Linked DNA regions of Homo sapiens: region 1 is linked to region 2. The links come from fine-mapping of genetic effects on gene expression. A gene starts in region 2. The other region holds a variant in brackets. All regions are shown on one strand. Distances are between the middles of the regions. Region 1 overlaps UBOX5 (U-box domain containing 5). Region 2 holds the start of LZTS3 (leucine zipper tumor suppressor family member 3).

The links. PIP is the estimated chance that this variant, and not a neighbour inherited with it, causes the effect.
Region 1: its variant is the best candidate, but not a certain one, in a credible set for the expression of LZTS3 in tibial artery (GTEx, PIP 0.77).

The regions. Positions count from the first base shown.
Region 1 is chr20:3,108,334-3,110,833 of GRCh38, forward strand. UBOX5 (U-box domain containing 5) reads right to left here. Exons shown (of 5, transcript NM_014948.4): 5 at 1-1,981. The coding sequence ends at 1,773. UBOX5-AS1 (UBOX5 antisense RNA 1) reads left to right here. Exons shown (of 7, transcript NR_038395.1): 2 at 1,142-1,417; 3 at 1,945-2,120; 4 at 2,299-2,384. Among named protein-coding and RNA genes, the nearest start is that of UBOX5-AS1, 2.7 kb to the left of the region's middle. The variant T/C (reference allele first, on the strand shown) is at 1,517.
Region 2 is chr20:3,171,982-3,174,984 of GRCh38, forward strand. It overlaps LZTS3 (leucine zipper tumor suppressor family member 3), which reads right to left and starts at 1,568. Exons shown (of 5, transcript NM_001365618.1): 1 at 1,474-1,568. It overlaps LOC107985414 (a long non-coding RNA gene), which reads left to right and starts at 1,709. Exons shown (of 2, transcript XR_001754477.2): 1 at 1,709-2,209. RefSeq lists a silencer at 1,452-1,791.

The DNA.
Region 1 (2,500 bases), 64 kb before region 2:
TTGACCTCAAGTGATCCACCCACCTTGGCCTCCCAAAGTGCTGGGATAATAGGCATGAGCCACCATGCCCGGCCATGCTGGGGCTTTTCTAAGAACACAAGCACACCGGAGGGTAAGACAAGATTCTGGAGAGGCACAGACCCAGAAAGCCAGGGGCACACAGGAGCCTCGCCAGCGAGGGCGGCACAGGCCATCCATGCGGACCCTCAAATCTCATGTGAAGGCTGCATCAAGGTCAGTGCCAAGAGGAAGCAGAGCAAAGCATGTGACCACCTCTCTGAAGCCATCTTTGTGGACAAATGATGTAGGAACTCAAAAAAATGCAGGCTTGGCTAGGCGAAGTGGCTCATGCCTGCAATCCAAGCACTTTGGGAGGATCGCTTGAGCCCAGGAGTTTGAGACCAGTCTGGACAACATAGCAAGACCTTGTCTCTACAAAAAATAAAAAAATTAGCTGGGCATGGTGGCACATGCCTATAGTTCCTGCTACCTGGGAGGCTGAGGTAGAAGGATCCCTTAAGCCCAGGAGTTCGAGGCTGCAATGAGTTATGATTGCACCACTGCCCTCAAGCTTGGGCAACAGAGACCAACCCTGTCTCAATTAAAAAAAAAAAAAAAAAAGCAACTAACCCCAAACCCAGATCTCTAAAGTATTGGGTGTGGACTAGAGCTCTGGACGGCCTAAAGGAAAGGAATGTGCCGGTTCACAGGGACCCGCGGCTAAGCTCAAGGGTAAAATACAGCTTTACAAAGCATCTTTAGGCTGTTCCTTCCCAAACGTGCTTAGAAGGGAACAGGGAAAGGCGGGTGTGTTTTCTCACTGAGGTTCTTCTAGTGGCTGGAATCTGATAGAGTACCAAGTTGTAGGGATATGGATATATTTTCCCTTTGGCACTCCATAAAGCTAAATGTTGGGCTGAAAAAAGGATGCAGCCTATAAACAAGTATTTTTCCTGAAACCAACTGCATGAGGAAACGCTGCGCTCCCCCTCAGGGAGCAGTTTCTGAAGCCAGCTGAGCACAGCTGGCACTGGCCAGAGGGAGCCCTCCACCCTCCCACCACGTATGCCCACCTGCAAACCTGGGTTCTGAGTCCCCATGCAGGGGACAGACCTGAAAATTCCAGTTTGTGTCCTTTCAGGTCATCGACAGGAATGACAGCCTGGCAAGCTGCAGTGACTGCACACAGCTACCCTGTGAGCTCCACTTGTGTGGGTGCAGGTGGGCGACAGGAGTGTGTGACACAGACAGGCACTCCACCAGGAGGAAACCCACAGCAGACGTCAACCATCGCTTTATTAAGGCTGCGAGTCGGGGGGCTGAGTCATGCACTCCACAGACACCCCCACTGCTCCCAAGGTCCACTTTTGGATGACCCTGAAGGCAGAGACTCCTGAGATCTGGGCCACAATCTAGGGTGAGCCACCCACAGTGCCCTGCTGGACAGGGGGGTATGCGGACTGCACGGGGGGGCCCTCAGCAGGGGTCTTCCTGCCTAGGGTGGGGCTGGCTCCAG[T/C]GGGTCCTGGGCTCAGGCAGGGGGGGTGGCAGGGAGGCAGGGACATCCCCCCGCCCTCTGGCCTATGGCTTTGTTGCCCTATTGCCACCAGCGCAGAAGCAATGTGCTATACCGTGAGGTGATGAAGAAGAGCCCCGGGAGGGAGCAGGCAGCTCTGTGCCTGGGGCCTGGCCAGACCTCAGGGGTGCTGTGGCCCTGCTCCTGTTCCCCCTCAGCTCCTCCCAGCAATGGGTCTCCTCCAGTGGAGGTCAGTCACTCAGAAGTGGACCCGCAGCACGTCTTGGCTAGCAACCGGCCGCTGGCAGGCTGTGCACGTCATGGGCAGGGAGCGTTGCTTCTCACCCAGGCAGGGTCGGCACAGGAGGTGGCCGCAGGGCAGCTGGTACACCGGCTCCTTTTTGAAGTAGGGAGAAAATACTCTTTTGCAGGAGGCACATTCGGGGCCCAGGATGCTCCCAGGCTGCTCTGGTAAATCAGGAAGGAAAACAGGCCAGGGTTAGGAAAGCTGCTCCATGGTCCAGGCTGCTCTGAGGGGCAGAGCCTTCCCACCGTGCTGCTGCAGCATCTGGCTTCATCCCTCCCGAGTCCATCCCAGTCTGATCAGGTAGGGGAGTGGAAGCGGGAGAGGGAGCCTGGGAACCCGGGAGGCCTCTTCTCTATCATCTTTGACCAAATCTCAGTGCCTCTACGAATGCTTGAGAAGAGCTGGCTTCTGAGGGCAGCAGGCAGGACTGGGCCCTTCCTCCTGGTCTCCCAGCAAGGTTTACTTTCCCCTGCGATAGGTGGCCAAGGCTGGAGCAAGGCACAGCTCACTCTGACAAGATAAACTGCAAGAAATGTGAGAGGCGACAAGAGAAGGAAAAGGCAGGTCAGTGGGGTGGCTCAAGCCTGTAATCCCAGCATTTTGGGAGGTTGAGACAGGAGGATCACTTGAAGCCAGGAGTTCGAGACCAGCCTGGGCAACATAGTGAGATACTGTCTCTA
Region 2 (3,003 bases):
TGTCTCTCCCAAAGCTAGGAACACTTGGGGTCTCAGAGGCCCCAACCCCAGCCCATTCTATCTCCTAAAAATCTCTAGCCAGCCCCTCCATCCAGCACCCCTGCTGGGGGCTCCTCAATGGACTTTCTTCTCCTGCACTCCCTCCCCCAGGCAGCTGCCAGGGGATTCCTTCTAAAGGGCAAAGCTGATCTTGCCCCTGCTCTGTCCAAATCCTTCCATGAGCAAGACCAAGTGCAGTAGACAGAGTTCTGGCAGCATCAGCTCCAAGTGTAAATCCCAGCTTGACTGATTAGGGGTGCAACCTCATGCAGGTTATTTCACCTCGGGTTCTCACACCTACATTGCAGGCATTTTAAGAAGTAAATGTATGATGGGTGAAATGCCTGGTATTCCTCTTGGTCCCCAGAACCAGAGCAGAGCTTGCAGCAGGGTCCCCAAGGACTCTCCTGATGCCCCTCCTCTATCTACCCTGACCTGAGCCCCTCTCTACTTCACACACAAGCTCTTGCCAGCTCTCTGTGCCCATCCTACATGCTTCTAGACCAGTTCAAAGGCTGGCCTCAGGACAGCATCCCTGATCTCCACCCCCCAGAGGGGGCATCTTGGAGCACTTGGCTGAGGACACCCCAGGGAGATTTCACTCTGAGGCCTCCCCAGGGCTGGCCTATAGGTTTCCCAGGAGCACAGAGGGCAGAGTCCTGGGGGTCTCTGGGCCCTGCACCAAGGAAATGCAGGGCAAATGCCTGTGGGAATGCTAGTTATGGGCAATGCAAAGAGGCAGTGAATCCGGGCAGGGAGAGCAGGAGGGGTTTCCAGGAAGCAGGACTGAGGGAGGAAAGGGATCTGGGGGCACTGCAGGGCTTTTGGGGTGCAGAGATATCCAGAACTTCTTGGTTGGGATGAGTGAGGGGAGATCCGTCTTCCCTCGGTGGCCTAAGCACTGGCAGCGGAATGGGCCCATCACCTAGCTACTGGCTCTGATGAAGCCAGTGTTTCAGGACTGAGGGGGCCGAGAGCGCCCCCTCCACCCCGAGCACACACACGCGCGCACACACGAGCTTCTGCTGGGGGTGGGAGGGGGGGTCGCCATTCACCAGCAGCCCACGGCCCGCAGAGCCAACTGATAGAGACCCCAGCCACAGGCCACAGGACCTGGGAGTCCCTGCGATGGGGGAAACCCCGCCCGCACCTCCCCAGGCTCCCCACCAACGCGTGTGGCCCCGGGGGGCGGGGCGCAGAGGGAAGAGGTGACATAATCCGAGCCGCACCCCCTCTGGCCGCCACCTCCCCCCAGGCCGGGCGAAGCATCCATGACATCATCCGCCTCCTCTCCGCTCCCCTCCCCCTTGGGACCCTAGCAGCGGGACGCGCCCCCTACCCAGTCCGGGTCAGGTCAGACATGCCGCGCAGTGCAGCAGGCACGGCGGCAGGTCGGAGCCGGGAGGGATGCCACGATGGGCCTGCCTCACTTACTCGCTGCCTCAGGGTCCGGCGCGGGGTCTCCGACACGGGCGCCACCGGCCCCGCTTGCTGGCGCAGCCCGAAGCACGCCCGGCGGGGCGCGCTGCGCGGGCCCGGCTCCGCTCCGCGCCCCTCCTGCTCCCCGCCCGAGCCCCGCCCACCAGCGGCTGCGGCAAACGCGAGCCCGCCCTCCGGCCACGCCCCCCAGGGCAGCCAATGCCCGGGCTGGGGCGGGGTGAGGCGCCTTAACCCCTTCGTCGCTGCGCCCCGCCCGCGCGTGGGACCCCTCAGCCTCACCCTCTCTAGGGCGCAGCAAGTCCGCCGCGAGCCCCTCTGCTCATCGCTCGTTACCCCCCAGGCCCTTGGGCTTGGGCTCAGGCCCAGTCGTTCCTCTGCAACAAATCCAATGGAACCGCGCCCTCCCTGAATCCCACGTCTAGGAAGAGGAGGAGGAGCCCCTCTTGCTTGGGGGAAGGGGCTCCCGACTCGGAGCCCCGAGCCCCATTCCTCTCCCGCGCCAGCTCTTCGGGACGCGGCCTCCCAGCGGACGCCCTGAGACCTTGCAAGTCCGCTAGGGAGGGGTCGGGACGAGCCGTCGCGGGTGGATCCGCCCGGCCGAGCAACGACCCGCCCGGGCGCGAGGACCACGGGCTGTCGTGCGGGAGGCGTCGAGGGGCAGTAAACTCCGTTCGTGACCAAACGGAGACGATTTGAAACTTGCTGCTCACACTGGATCACCGTCTGGAAGGTGCGACGGGGAAAAAATACACATTACACTCCAGCAGGATTGAACGCTTTCACCCTGTGCCCCGCGCCTGGCGTAACGCGTGGCCCCAGACCACACGCTGTAACCCGGGGTGAGAGGGAGTGAGGTGGGACTTCGTACCGGACCCGGAGCGCCGGCCTCGCCCGCGCGGGCAGCGTTCACTGTGGGGAGTGCTCACTCAGCCTAGGGCGGCCCGGGAGGACTGCCGGGAGGAGGGAGTCGGCCTTGAATTGAGGCCTCAGCCTTGAATAGGGTAGGGAGGCAAGCCTAGCCGAGAGTTTAGCACTAGCAAAAGCCTGGAGGCACCAGGGTCTGCCCTAAGAACTGCAGCGCCTCTGCTCTGGCTGGGATTTAACGCATTACGTCTCTGCTGTTTATAGGTGTTGTGTTTGGTCTTACGACTTCGTATTCTATAGTTTTTATTTATTCCTGTTTTCTGAATTTTCCCACATTTGCTTTTATCTTCTATCGTGATTTTCAAGGCAGAAAGTATTTTTAATTCTTCTCGCGGCTGCCTTTAGATTTATCAAATGAAAATAGTTTACATTTCACACATTAGTAAAGTCAGTGACAAATAATTCGTTTTTATATTCCCCCATGAGAAATTTTGTGTGCTTTTCTGCCTCCTACCTGCCGCCCTCACTACTTATATTTGTCCACTTAATCAGGACGACAGACCTAACTTTTGTTTACACTTTTTTTTTAAGCCACAACATTCTTTTTCAATCCTTGTTTTTGGCTTTTGCCAACTCTGTTTAATTGGTTTCAATGTTACT